3 linked regions of the Homo sapiens genome follow. The protein of the gene in region 3 interacts with the protein of the main gene of each other region in a pairwise test. Each region holds a gene or a part of one and is shown on either strand. Other genes may lie near its edges.

The links.
Region 1: the proteins of PARP11 (region 3) and CHAT interact in binary tests that used the Homo sapiens proteins (3 or more experiments, as listed by UniProt).
Region 2: the proteins of PARP11 (region 3) and LHX4 interact in binary tests that used the Homo sapiens proteins (3 or more experiments, as listed by UniProt).

What each region holds. Positions count from the first base shown.
Region 1 is NC_000010.11:49,612,361-49,617,649, forward strand, and holds the start of CHAT (choline O-acetyltransferase), read left to right. Parts: upstream 1-1,676; 5' UTR 1,677-1,829; coding exon 1,830-2,115; intron 2,116-3,662; exon of another isoform or gene 3,663-3,692; coding exon of another isoform or gene 3,693-3,732; intron 3,733-4,141; coding exon 4,142-4,242; intron 4,243-5,289. UniProt on the Homo sapiens protein: Catalyzes the reversible synthesis of acetylcholine (ACh) from acetyl CoA and choline at cholinergic synapses.
Region 2 is NC_000001.11:180,267,934-180,272,576, reverse strand, and holds part of LHX4 (LIM/homeobox protein Lhx4), read right to left. Parts: intron 2,925-4,643; exon of another isoform or gene 1,198-2,924; coding exon 1,043-1,197; exon of another isoform or gene 743-1,042; coding exon 571-742; exon of another isoform or gene 1-570. UniProt on the Homo sapiens protein: May play a critical role in the development of respiratory control mechanisms and in the normal growth and maturation of the lung. Binds preferentially to methylated DNA.
Region 3 is NC_000012.12:3,831,387-3,836,029, reverse strand, and holds part of PARP11 (protein mono-ADP-ribosyltransferase PARP11), read left to right. Parts: intron 1-4,643. UniProt on the Homo sapiens protein: Mono-ADP-ribosyltransferase that mediates mono-ADP-ribosylation of target proteins. Plays a role in nuclear envelope stability and nuclear remodeling during spermiogenesis. Inhibits the type I interferon activated signaling pathway.

The DNA of each region.
Region 1 (5,289 bases), on a different chromosome or scaffold from region 3:
CCACCCAACCGCCTTGGGTCAAGGGGGCTGCTCTGCAAGCCCACTGGCCAGCTCTGGCTCAGGGCCCACCTCCTCCAGCGAGTACCCCAGCCACTCCTCAACCTTGACTTCTGCCCAAATCCCCTCCCTGTGACCCGTTCCATATCCCTTTCTCTCTTGTCCAATGGGGCTTGGAGCACCGAGGCCAGCGAAGCCATCGCGCTCCTTGCGGAGGTGAAGAGGACCCTGAGTCCCCACCTGCGGCTCCCCTGTGTAGAGCCTGCATCTGTCTGTCCTTCCTTCCATTGCTCCCAGTGCCAAACTTGGGCCGCTGCACCGCGGCGCCTCCGCCCAAATCAATAAACTGTGTCTGTCCCAGGAGGCCGAGTCTCTTTACTGGTGGGGGGTGCGTGGAGGCGCGCAGGGCCAGAGCAGAGGGGAGGGTGAACTGGGTCTCCAAGTCCCAATCCAGACCTAAGCCAAACTAACACGTAGGCACCTGTAGCTGTTTTTCTACCTGGAAAAGGGGATAGGAAGGAAGCAAACCCAACAAAGGCTGTCACCCACGGTCACCAAGGAGCACCATGCTCCCCTCAGCCCAGGATAGACCCTCTTTTCCAGGCCTAGCGCAGAGCCCGGGGATGCCGCCCGGGGGAGCCTGAGGACCCGCTCCAGCTAGGCACGCCAGGCCCCGCCCTTTGAGGACACGCCCCACACCAGCCTCAGAGCTCTGAGGTGCCTGGGCTGAGCTTCCCTTCAGACCAGAATCCCGCCCCGTTGAGGCTTTGAGAAAGGAGTAGGAGCCGAGCATTCCGGCAGAGGAAGAAAAACGGCCCATCTTTTAGAGTCCGACCTCTGGAAATGTGTGTATGATGTGATGTGTGTGTTCATTAGAGAACTTGTCCTAGGAGGAGTGGGGGAGCCGTGGTTGGTGTTTGCTGTATCCCTGTCAGTCCCGAGGGTCTGAGTCTTGAAGGGAGAGATGCGAGTGTGGGATCTGGTGCCAACCCCCACTGCCACCCTGTCCTGAGTGGGAGCAGCGGCCCAGGACTGTCAGGAAAGTTTCCCATCCTTAGTCCCAGCCCTGAGAGCCTCAAGCCAGCGTTCGCGCAACACTCCATGTCCCGAAGACCGTAGTCTGATGATCGAGGCAGAGTCTTCCCATCATAGCGTGAAGAGGCGGCTGGTCAGGGTCGCCTGTGTGTTAGCTGCGCCTGTGAGGGTCTGCTCTGCTGTTGTGCGCATGTCTGTCCTCGATCTGCGAGTCGGGCTGTGTGTGCCTGGGCGGAGTCTGCCTTTGTCGGTCTGTCTGTGCTATTTCTGTGTGGGGGTCTCTATCTGGGGTGGGGGATGCTTTTGTCTGAGAGGAGAGCCTGCCTCTTGCCGCAGTCCTTAAGCATCCTCAGGTCTGCCATCAGGATTGTCCCAAGTCTGTAGCACCCCACCTCTGCTCCCCACCCCATAGTGCCAGCAGGAATGGGATGGTAACAGAAAGGGAAGTCCTGCAGTGAATATTGATCCCAGTTATTGTTTCTTATTATTATTTTGAAAGATGGTGTAGCAGGGTTTGAGACTGGCCTGGATGGTGGGGAGAGGAGGGCAGCGAGCAGAGACTTCCTCAGACCCAACCCTCTCCAGGATTCAGCAGCAGCACCCCAAGGCTGGAATAATGGGGTTGGGGAAGTGCGGTGACTGGGAAATGCTGAGCTAGGGGCAGGAGGCATGGGCGGGACAGTGTTCTGTGCCCCCTTCTAGAGCCTAAATTTGTTGCCCGAGTTCCTCCGGGAAGCGCTCCGGGTAGATTCTGGGGGCCGGGAGCTGAGATCCCTGGGCGGGGAGCTGGGGAAGGGATGGGGCTGAGGACAGCGAAGAAGAGGGGGCTTGGGGGAGGGGGGAAATGGAAGAGAGAGGAGGGAGGAGGTACAAGAGGAAGGAGAGAAGTGCGGCCAGCTTGCTTTCTCCAGTCGGGTGGCCGCGGGGACCCGGGCGACGTCGGAGGCCCTGCCGGGAACCCAGGCTGCAGCCCCCACCCCCGCGCTGCGACACGCCCCCCACCCCTTCCGGCTCACACCCCCGCCCACACTCCTGAGTGGTGCGGTGCAGCGTCGGCCGAGGCAGCAGAGCCGAGGAGAGCAGGTGAGAAGAAGGGCTGGGCTGGGCTGGCGGAGCGCGGTGCCGGGAGCAAGGGCGGCGGTCGGGGGCTCTATCCAGGGACAGCACCGGGGCCGAGAGGCCCCAGGACTCGTGGAGTCCTCTGAGTCCTGCGCAGCAGCGGCCGTCGGGGGTCAGCTAGGAAGCTGCAGGATTGCGTTGCTTCGGTGCCTGGGCTTGGGGAGGCTTAACCATCAGGGCTTCGGGACTCCAAGCGCATGTTCTCACTTCACTTGGCCCAGCATCTGCTAAGTGACCAGGTCCGCGCTTTCTGTGTCTAGTCGGAGGGTCCTTGGGTCTGACCCGACTCGCCTGAATTGCTGGTTGGCAACCGCTTCTCCCGGGAGCAGGGGGTGGGGAAGGAGGAGCAGTGGCTGGTGGCAAGTCTGAGCCAGGACATAGCCGATGACAGCCTGTGAATGACCGGCCAGACTGGGGTTGGACCTTCGGGGCAGAGCAGGCAGCCCTTGGAAAGCCAGGCTGGCAGGAGCATGGGTGGGAGGCACAAAACACAAACAGACATATATACACATACATCCTCTAGGCATCTGCCCAGGAGTGATGGAGGAAGAAGAGTTGGTAGGTGGGACCACCAGGAAACCATCCCACCCAGCTCTGCCTTCTTCAAGCTCAGGGTCCCTGAAGCCTGACTAGTGTCTCCCGAATGGGGGGGAGGGGGGGGCTCTGGGCCAGAGCAAAAGGAGGCATTGGCTGCATGGTCTGTAGGGCCTTTACCAACCTGACCTTGTCCTTGCTGTCCTCTCAAAAGACTGCCATGCTCCGGTGAATCCTCACCAGGACGCCACCTCTTTCACTTTGCAGTTGGGGGCAGCCCCTACGAACCCACAGCACTGGGAGGCGTGGGAACAAGCCTGTGGAGAGTGTCCCTGCACTGTGCCAGCAAGGGCTTTACATTCTCTGCCCAGCACTGCAAGGCAGCCCCAGGCTCCTCCATCCTTGGGCCTGGTTCATCCATCTTTCTGGACTCTCTGTTCCTGGCAACAACCCTGCCAGGTGCCCATACATGGGCGGTGCTTGCCTCTGGGTAGGGGTGGTGTTGGGTGGGGAGAGGGGTGAGGAAATTAGCTAAACCTCAGCTTTAGACTTGAGAGAATAGAGGGTGGGCTGGTGGAAAACATGAGTATGTGCCTGTGGAGGCTTAGGTTCAGGGGGATCTCAGAGGGTAGCAATTGTGACCCACAGCCTAATAATAACAGTCTTTGCCCTCTTGGCCTGGCTCACTTCTACTGTACCTTCAAAATTAATCTGCCTCTCCCCAGACTAAGGCAGGTGGCCCCTAGGGGCCCTGGCTGCCCAGCCTCCCTGCATACCTCCCTGGGCACTCCTATGGCATCTACACTGGCAGCCTGCAGACCCGAGACTGCCTAGGTCACAACGCCTCCAGCAGGCCCAGAGTCTCCCTGCCCTGGCCACAGGCCAGGCTCCCAATTAGCCCAGATGCATCCTGGAGCACAGGGCCTTAAAGGCCTCCATTCACCCACGCATGCATTCCTTTCCCTCCACCAACGGAGTGAGGGAATTCACCCTACTCCACACCAGAGATGTGGCCGGAATGCAGAGATGAAGCACTGAGCACAGTAGGTATGGTCTTACCCTTGAGAAGCTAGTGGGAAAGAGAGAGTTTGATTGGCAAAGCACTTATCTATTGGGTTCCAGGCAGGAACAAAGGCAGCACTCTGCCAGCAACCCCTGGTGGATTTGGATTGCCCCAGGGTGGTCAGCTGGCCTTGGGTGACAACAGACTCATGAGAGCAGACCCTCACTTTAGGAACCACTCTCTCCCATATGGGGGCCCAGAGAGAACACTGTGGTCAGCACGTACAGGTGGAAGTAGAGACTGGGGCCACGCCTGCAATGAGACCCCTATACACAGCTGTCAGGCTCTGGCCTCCTCATGGGGCTGGGGTGGGGGTCTGTTGGCGGGAGGTGGAGGGTTTGTGACAGGCCTATGTGGCTGCTGTGTTGATGCTTCCCACTTCTTGGTCCCCAGGTCCACACCTCTGCATCCCTGCACCAGGACTCACCAAGACGCCCATCCTGGAAAAGGTCCCCCGTAAGATGGCAGCAAAAACTCCCAGCAGTGAGGAGTCTGTGAGTGACTTTTGGAGCCCTCTCTCAACCCTGCTTTCCCCACCTACATGCCCTTGCTTCTAGAACAGTCCTGAGTGGGACTGGCCCCCAGCATTTGCCTGGCCCCAGCCCTGCCCTCTACTGGCACAAGGCCCAGGCTACAGCTCCACCCCCAGCTTGCTGAGGATCCCAGAAGGGCCTGGAGGGGCTGAGACGGGCCTCAGGGTGCCAAGGAAATGCTAAGAGCTTAACTTCCAAATCCCCTGGCCAGGCTAGGCCCTATCTTTCCTTCCAGGGCCTCTCTTCATCCCAGCTTCCACTTCTGATAGCTTTGAGCCCAGTGATTTTGCCTTAGGGTGGGGCTGAATTCCTACTCCAAGCCCTGCAAGTCCCAGCTCCAGCTGCTATCACTAGTTCAGCCTTGGAGCCTTAGGCACCATGTTCTCCACTGGCCTGAGACAATGCCATCCTCCCTGGGCAGGCATCCTCCCTCCCGCCCCAGCCAGCCTTCGGGTGGCAGAGCAACACACCTGACTTCAGGTGGTTGCATGTGTTTCCCCTCTCCCACACTTGTCTTTTTGCCACTCCTCTTCCCCCTTCCCCCTTCCCCTTTCCCCCAGCCCTCATTTGAAACCCTGAGCAGAATTTTCTGGCTTCTCCCCAAGAAGCTGTTCACTCCATTGCCCTGAATTCTGCAGCTGACAAACATCTATTGTCACCTCTGGTCCACTGGCATGCTTCTCTACCCACCCCATTGGGCTGTGGCTTCCTTCAGAGCAGGCTCTGTTTCTCCATCGTCTCTGAGTCCAGCCCAGGATCTGACTCACATGAACTGCCCAGGAAACATGGAGTTTTGGAGCATTGATCTGAGACTCCCAGGTCCAAAGACACTCCTTAGCACAGGGCCAGAAGTCCAGGAGAGTCTGGGGAGGATCCCTGGGGGGTTGAGATGTCTGAGCTGCGATTTCCTGCTTTATTCCTTTTTACCCACTGCTGATTCCCTGTTAGCCAGGCTAAGTCACAGCGCACTGTCAGAGCCTGGAAGAAGGGGAGCAGTGTCTGGCAGAG
Region 2 (4,643 bases), on a different chromosome or scaffold from region 3:
TAGTGCATGCTGCAAAGCTTGTGTGCAGGGGACAGAATGAAGTGAGTGGTGGGGAAAGGGATTTCGGAAGTGAAGCCAGTTCCCCATCTCACATGCACTCACAGTACTGATTTCCCAGGAAAAAACCTGTGGAGCATGACCTCCCCACCACCAGGACTGGAGGAAGGGGTGGCTCTAGGGGACTATGGGAGTAGGCCAGTGTCCCAGCAAAGGGGACAAAGATGGGAGAGGGGCTAGGGGCACAAGGCTGGAACCCAGTCATCTGTTCATAGCTGTGTGGGCTGATGAGGGAGGCCCCAGTCAGCAGGAGGGGAGGGGAGACCTTGGGGCCACAGGACGGGGCCTGGCCCATCCCAGCTTCCAGACCTCAGCAATCTTGTTTCCTACTCCTGTCCCATGGTAAAGGGCCACTACCATTTCCCCCACCCTTCACTGCAAGTCTTAAGGAAAAGCCTGTGTTCAGGAGGGAGTTGCCAAGGCCTCAAGAAAGATCCCTCCTGAGTGCCAGGGATTACAGATTCCCAGGGGACTTTCCTAAGGCCTCGGCCTGGCCCCTCCAGCCCTGCTCACCTCGGAAGCTCAGCTCACTGTCACTAACCCCACAGTCCTCTGCAGAGCTCTCCTTCTCCTGCTTGCTGCTGCCCCGGCTCCTCTTGACGCTCTTATAGAACTGCCCCCAGCGGTGCCGCCCTGCATCCTTCTTCAGGCGTTTCTCTTTGGCCCTTCTGTTCTGAAACCAAACCTGCCACACAAGCACAAGGGACATACTCAGGGGGCGTCCACCACAAACCCAAAGCCCCCAGGACCCCCTAGGCGGGCGGCTGGAAGCAGACTGAAGCCTGAATGGAGCACAGGTCTGGGAGTGCGATGCGCCCCACCCCCTCTCCCCAGGTGGGCCTCAGAACTCTGTCTTCAGTTCTGGCAAAAGCCCTGGGGTCAAGCCCTGAGCCCAACCACCCGTGAGCTGATGTCACTCAGGATACCTTCCACCCCTGTCCCGGGCCTGGGATCCCCGGAGGGCACAGGAGTGCTGGCATCTCACCTGTACGACCCTCATGTCCAGGCCTGTCTCTGAGGACAGCTGCTCCCTCACGTGCCGGGCAGGCTTGGGGGAGTTCTTGTATGCATTCTTTAATGTCTCCAGCTGCTTGGCTGTGATGGTGGTCCGGGGCCGCTTAGCTCCAGCCTCTGAGTCATCTGCAAGGAAAAACCACTGCTTACTGGCTTCGGCCTATCTGCAGCAGCTGCGCCTCCTCCCACACCCTCCCTTCCATCCTTTCTGCACCTAAGCCTGCCTGCTGTAGGCAGGACAGCGCGAGGCACAGGGGACATCAGAGTGGAGAGGTCCCCACTCTCATGGCACTGACTCCTGCACCACGGGCCTTCCCAAGCCACTGAAAAGTGAGGACAGCAGTCCTTTCTCTGCTCAGCTCCCTGCCTCAACCCTCCCCTGCCAGCCCAGCTGCACAGAAGTCTCATCAGATTGAATGTACCCAATTCCACACGTCCCTGTCATGACAAACACTCTGCTCACACATCCTCATGAGTTCTTGCCAGAGCTGTGAAGGTGAACAGCCAGGTTGAAGTCATGTTCAAAGTCGCCCCAGATGCCCTCCCCTCTGTCTCATCAGGAGTCTCCCATTTCCCCACAGCCATGTCACCTTTGCCCTGGCGTCGCTGGGCTCACAGCCAGGGGTGAGCTTGCACACCCAACAGTGTCTAAGCAGGTTTCTAAACTATAGGTCAGAACCCACTCGTGGGCTGTAAAGTCACCTTAGTGGATCAAAACTAAAACAGGAAATCAGATGAAGAGAATGGGATGGAATGGCAAGATCATTTCATTAAACTTTAGTTTTTATTGTATAAATATGTGTACTGAGATGAAATGTAAAATGAGTTTTACTGTGGATTGTAGTCAAAATTTTTTGAGAAAACTAGTCTAAGGAATGTTCTGGGCAACACACTGACTGATCAACACAAAGTCCTAGACAGATTTTGAGTGAACAAGCTCAAGTTCCTGTTAGTTAAAGTCTGGTTTGTTCCATTCAAAGTCAGGTACAGAGAGAGGCGCGTGCGTGTGTTCGGAAGCACAGGTGAATGTAAAGGTTTGTTTCCTCTCCCAGCACTTAGGCATACTGCCCTTTTCTCCACAGTGCCCCTGGAGGACACACGGAATAAAGTCAGCAGCTGGCCTGGGCAGCTCTGCTCTCTGTGCTTGCTCACCTGTGTGCCCCAGAAGGTGTCTCTGTGACATTCCTGACTTCCTCTCTGTCTTTTCTCCTTTCTTTCCATTCAAGAAAACCCTCTCTTAGAAACAATAGTAGCCAACATGTGTTAGCACCTACCATGTGCTGGTGTTGACTAAGGACTTTATATGCATTCGGTCCTCACAATCTACAAGGCTCTCCCTGGAGTCAGCAGACCTGGCTTCAGTGTTCTTGATGAGTGAGTGACTTGGGCCAGTAACTCACTTCCCCCTTGGAAGTCCAGAGGGCAACACGGCCTGCCCTGATCTTGGGAGGCACTAGAGGAATGAAGCAGCTGTGCAGCCAGGACATGTGTGTACACAGTGAGGGGGGACACACCCGTGCCTTCCCTTCTCCTCGGGCTGTTTTCTTCTCTCACGTGGCCACTGTCATCCCGGAACTACTGTGGCCCAACTCCCTCCCTGAAGCCCTGAACCCGAAGGGTAGGGATTCCGGAGCCCCTGCCACAGAGACTACACTACTTAGAGAGTCATTCCAAAAGACAAAGGGGAACCTCCAAAATGCCTTCCTTTTCATTCTGAGGAGTCTGTCCCTTCTGTGCATATTTATAGTCTACACGGGAGTGTCTGATGCAACTTTGAATTATGCAAATGGGAAATAGTGCACTTGTGTACAATCTTTATATTAAAAAATGTGAAATAATGCAATCACCAAAAATGTTTTAATTTCTCGAGAATCACTTAATTTCAAAATAGCTTGGCCTACGGAATTATAAATTCTTTTCACCACAGCCAGATGGTAGCGCCACTGGGATAGACCCGTCATCCTGGTTGGTGGCCCGCTGGTTCGGCACTGCTACACACACAGGATTTTCTTCTTGCAATGATGGGGACTAATATGCTGTTATTTTAACATTCACTGTTATTATAATTTAAAATCTTTTTTATATCCCATAACAATGTCATCCAAGTATTCATTAAGTAGCAGTGGCAGTGCTCGTGCTGAAAAATGTACCCAAAAATCAATAACTTTGGTACGGAAGTTAAATGTGACAAAACGCTATGAGGAAGGCCAAGGGAGCCCATGATACCCTGGGCTGTTAATTTAGGAGAGAGCGTTCTGCAAGGTATTCAAGATAATGCTGAGAAAATAAAAAGTAGCATTAAGGCAAAGATACACTTCACTGGTTATGGATTTATGTGCTCTCAGAATATACCACCCCCCCCCCCACACACTCTACATTAATTCCTACAGGAAAATTAGTCTTAAAATATGTTAGTTTTGAATGATGCAGGGTCTCCTAGAACTTGTCCCTGGCATAAAACGCAACCTCATTATATTGAAAATGCAAATATCCAGGGAGACGGAACAAGTGAACAAAATCATTCACACTAAGGTGCAAGTAACTGCTCTGAGATCCTTTGTTTAGCTAATGGGAGGGAACTGTAAGCCTGCAGGAGGGCTGAGAGTAGCAAGGAGGAATTAAAACAACCTGAAAAGACAGCCAGGCATTCTGCAGTGGACAGAACTCCCCGCTGCTCCAAGGATCACCGATTGCCCAGGACAGAGGAGCCCTGCCTTGCTCACAGCCAGGGTGGGGTCAGGAAAGGACCCGGGGAACAGGCCAGAAATACTGTGTAACATTCCGCTGCTTTAAAACCTCAAGCACACCTCACCTCCCTGTTTGCACTTCTCCTCCACGTCAGTCTCTTATTTCACATCCCATTTCACAAGCCTCATCCTATTTAAACCTCAGGAAAACAGCCCTACGTGGCAGATGCTATGATCCTCCATAGACAGCTGAGAAGCCGAGGGTCAGCCAGTTCTACAACTTGCCAGGAGATCTCCCTGTGTGGGGGGATGCCCAGCCAGCTTCTGACAGCAAGTCCGGCATCTTCCATCATCCTGCAGAGGTCTGCTGTGGTGCAAATATTCCTCGATAAAACTGTGAGCACCACAATGTCATTCCCACCTCCCCAGCCAGATTCTGACCAATCTACATCTGTTTCTCTTGTCTCTTGAACCACCCACAACATCAGGAGATGCTGAGCTGAGAGTGCTCAGAGTCCAAATGAGGCCTCTGATGAGAACCAGCTGCAGGCCGGGGAGGTCGTGCCATCTTAGTATCTCTGATGAACGGCACTAGACTTCCAAAGGTGTCTTGGTATCTCTGAGTCCATCTGCTGTGATGGTTCATCCCTGACAAGTTGCCCTAATCTCCCATGACATCACAATTGACTTCAAGGCAATAGCATGGAGTGAGTTTTAAGAAACCAGAGCAGATTAGTACATTGCAGGCAAAGAGCCTTGGGATGGGTTTGCAGAGGCCCCAGGTCTCTGGAGGAAGGAGGTCAAAGGCCTCTGTCCACCCTGAAAGGCCAGAGCTGTGGGGGTGGTGGGAGGGAAGGTCCTCAAAGAGACAGGAAGCCCTGCCCA
Region 3 (4,643 bases):
TGTGTATATATATATAAAATTTACAAATTTGGATAGTTTTACTTTCTTTAAAGTTTTTCCTGTGCCTTTTTCTCTCTCCTCCGCTTCTGATACTGTAGTTATTTATATGTTGGTGCACTTAATGGTATCCCACATTTCTCTAATGCTCTGTTTATTTTTCTGCAATTTTTTCTTTCCTTTCTTGCATTTCATCTGTTACATAATGTCTATTAATTTATGTTCAAGTTTGCTGATATTTTCTTGTTCACAAATCTACCACTGAGCCTTTCTAGAGTGTTTCATTTTACTTACTATACTTTTCAACTCCAGAATTTCCATTTGATTATCTTAAATTATTTCTCTCTTTATTGATATTATTTATTTGATGAGACATTGTCATCATAATTTCCCTTAACCTGTTAAGCAAAGTTTCATTTATGTCTTTGAGCATATTTGTAATAATTGCTTTGAAGTGTTTGTTTGCCCAGTCTACCACCTGTGCCTCATCTAGAGGCAGCTTCTTTTGGTTTTCTATGTGTATTGATCACATCTTTATGAAGTTTTTTTATGTCTCATAATTTTTTTGTTGAGAACTGGATATTTTAAGTAACATAGCAACTCTGGATACTGATCCCTATTGTGGTTGTTTGTTTGGTTATTGGTTTATGTGTATATAACAGTGATATAGCTGAACAAATTCTGTAAAGTCCATTTTCCTCACAGTGTGTAGCTTCTGATATCCCAGCTCAGACTTTTCCCCTCTTAACCTGACTACTTATGTGGCATTTCTGGATTGGCATAGACTATGTACTGGTCACAGGTTGTGCTTACATTCCCTGAGGTAGGTAGATTTTTACCCTTAAGTGTTAAATGTGTGTGTGGCTTGGTGGCTGCTATTATAGTTCAGGGAGTTTACATTTTTTTTTGTCCTGCATTTAGCCAGGTGCTAGAAGCTTGGAAGTTAGTTCCTGAGAGGGCCCAACCTTGAGCATGTACACAGTGTTCCAGACTGTCAGGGATGACAGTGCTGTTTCATTTAACCCTGGCTTCATAGGAATTACCCCTGGGTCAGAGTAGCTTCTGTTACGTCGTGTTTGGCCAGAGGTGGTGATTCAGACCCTTGTGCCAATGAAGTTTCTCCGCTCTGTCAGTGGGTACGTGTATAGCTTAGAGAACGTTTTCAAGACTGCCCCACGTTCTGCCCTGATCATTCCTGGGTGTACACAGCCTAGTGTTTTTATACTGCCTTTCTGACTCCTCTCTGATCTAAGAGGGCTCTTCTTGGCTGTCTCTGGTTCTCTGCATTAAACTTCTGCTTGCTCTGCCTTTCTGCTTATATTGGAGCTCCTAGCCTTTCTTAATTGTTTTTCATTAATATTTCCACTGTTTTCTTTCTTTCTTTTTTTTTTTTTTTTTGAGATGGAGTGTCGCTCTTGTCGCCCAGGCTGGAGTGCAATGGTGTGATCTTGGCTCACTGAAACCTTTGCCTCCTGGGTTCAATCAGTTCTCTTCTCTCGGCCTCCTGAGTAGCTGGAACTACAGGTGCACGCCACCACACCTGGCTAATGTTTTGTATTTTTTGTAGAGTTGGGGTTTCACCATGTTGGCCAGGCTGGTCTCAAACTCCTGGCCTCAGGTGATCTGCCCATCTTGGCCTCCCAAAGTGCTGGGATCACAGGCATGAACCACCACACCCGGCCCACTGTTTTTGATAATGCCCTTAGGCATGGGGTTCTGCTCTCTGTTCCAAATAAAGTCAGTCCTCTCAGATGGAAATGTAGAGCTCTTTGTCCTTATGGCTCGTCTTTACCCCTGAGCAAAGTCTCCATGCCACTGCTCCTGGGGCTGAAGGTGAGAGTCTTTTTTCCCCAGAGTAACACTCCATTCTTAGAGTGGGCAGTGGAGTGCTGGTAGCAGCCCTTGGTCTTCTTAGCTGACTGCTCCTGGCACAAAACCTCTACTCTGGGAGGAAGTTGGGGCGGTGGCAGTCAGGGCCCAGTATTTGCAGCCTGCTGTACCTGGAATAGAAATTCTACCTTTTGAATGGGGGCTGTGTAGGGAAAGAGAGACGGGTCCTCTGTGTCACCTCTCCAGAACAGAGCTTCTACACCTCTGGGCTGAAGGAGAGGAGAAACACCAGCAGCCTGCCCTTCCCGGGGTAAAACTAGCCACAGACTGGAAGCCTGAGGGAGAGGGAGCCCTCTGCCTGTCTTTTGGGTACATATACCGCAGGTAGAGGCTTCATAATACAGACCTGGTAGGATGTGGGGAATGGTGCAGTTTGTAACTCAAACGCCACAGACTCTGACTTGTTCTGAGATTGAGTACATTTTCTTGAATGAATGTTTCTCCACTTTTTGTATGCCCTTAGTACAGTTTCCAGAGACTTTAAATGTTTGTTTTTTAAAAAAATTTTCAGCAGTTTTTAATTTTTAATTAATTAATTTTTGTGAGGCAGGGTTCTGCCGTGTCAAGCTGGAGTGCAGTGGCGTGATGTTAGCTCACTGCAGCCTCAAACTCCTAGGCTCAAGTAATCCTTCCATCTCAGCCTCTCAAGGGGCTAGGACTATAAGCATGCATCAGCATGCCTGAGTAATTTTTATTTTATTTTTTTGTAGAGATGGAGTCTCACTGTGTTGCCAGGCTTGCCTCAAACTCCTGGCCTCATGCAAACCTCCCTTCTCAGCCTCACCAAAGCCCTGGGATAACAGGTGTGAGCTACCACGCCCGGCCTACTAGTTTTTAAAATGTAGTTTTGCCAGTTCCACTGAGCTCCTTATTCTGTCATTCTGGAAGTTCTCGTTCATTTTTAAGCTTTTAAGATCAGGTTTGAGATCTTCTTTATATGTAGAGGCAAGGAAGTTGTTATTACCAAATATGATTTCCTGAAGATACTATACTCATGCTAACAAAATAAATTATACTTTGTTGTAGTAAACTAAAATTTATATCAGAAAACTTGAAACCAGTCTGGAAGGCAGCCTTATTTTCCTTATATAGACCAGGATTTTGACTTTAAACTCATTTTCCACACAGCTTTTCAATTTGATGATTCAGACTGACTGTTCCCAGGCTCTGTAAATAAAGATTCTCTTTGTAACAGATAACATTACGGACAGGCTCTACCAGCATACCCATTGCCCTTGAAACTTTACAAAATGCTTTGCCGCTTTGTACTAGCTTTTTCTTCTTCCCAGCCTGCTTCTAATTACAAACAGGAAAATCAGACAGGATATGGCATTGTGACTGAACAAGTTCATTCATCTAACATTATTAAATACCTGCTTCATAACCGATAACTGGTGAATATTCTTTTTATTACCTATAAATGTGTCCTAGCCTAGAGCCATTCTTACTATGGTTGCGATATTTTAAAGTTATTAATTTAAATTTGACTTAACTCTTTGAGCATAATTATGCAAAATAGTCATTTCTTTGGAGAGAAAACTTACTGTAGAAAATGGAAATGTTTAATCTTATAAAATGCATCTTTTTAAAGAAACCCAGAGCATCTGTGAAGCAAAGCAATTAAACTAAATGTTAGCAACATAGGAGAGGAGAAATAACTGTCCATGTGTGAAAAGGAGACAGTGGGGCTTGGTAACTTAGGGGAAGAAGTGATGTTCAGGAGGCCTTAGGTGTTGCTTTAATATTCTCTGTACTGCTAGCTGTGAATCTAGACAAAAAATTGTATTATTCTCTGCTTCGGTTTTTTTCCTGACTTTAATTGGAAAATAATCACTTATCTCTCCTGCACATTGGATTGTGGACGAAAAAAATAGTGTAATTTGATAAGGAATTGTATAAGATTTGAAGTGCTTTAGGAATGTTCAATACAATGGTACCTGTCCCACCCAAAGCGATTTATAACAGAAAGCTCTGAAAGGATGTTGCTGAAACACTTTCATTTATAACCTGGCCTAAAGCGAAGTCTTAGGTAAGGTGTTTTATAGCGGAGCACACATGTTATATGTATGCTGTATAAAGGGAACTTTCCTATTTTCTATTCTCTTTTCTAATAGAGAAAAGATAGAACTCGTAAGGCAAATATTTTTCTTAACTATTAGCTCCAATCTCATTCTTCCAAATTTTTCTGGTTATTTTCAGAAGAAAAACTAAATTTAGGTCACACTTTCTTTCCTTCTCTCTTTCTCACAGTTAAATGGCCCAATGAAATGAACATTAATAAAAAAAAGCAGTAGGAATTGTGAATAGTTTACTGGACAGTTTGGTCTTAAACTTTAAATCATTGTCTTTATTATGTGGTTAAAATATATAAGGTAAATAGTGGGTCCTAAACCAGAAGGCTTTGATCCTAGGGTGTTCTATTTTTCATTTCTTAGAAGCCAACCAAATTTAAAACATGAAGAAAAAAATGGGAAATAATCATAAAGCATTGCTTGAGTTTCCAAACATATATAAAAAATAACAAACCCCCTTCATTGAGGTCAGGCACTGTTATAAATGAACTTGTCTCGTTCATTTATAACATTGTCTCATTCATTTATAACAACATCCCAATGAGGAAGGAGTCTATCATTTTTCATTTTGTGAAGAGCCAACTGTGGCCTAGACAAGGCAATTGAAACTTATTCCAGGTTGCTACAGCTTCTAAAAATAGGATGGACATTTTAAATGATGAAATTAAAAGGCAAATATTTTCT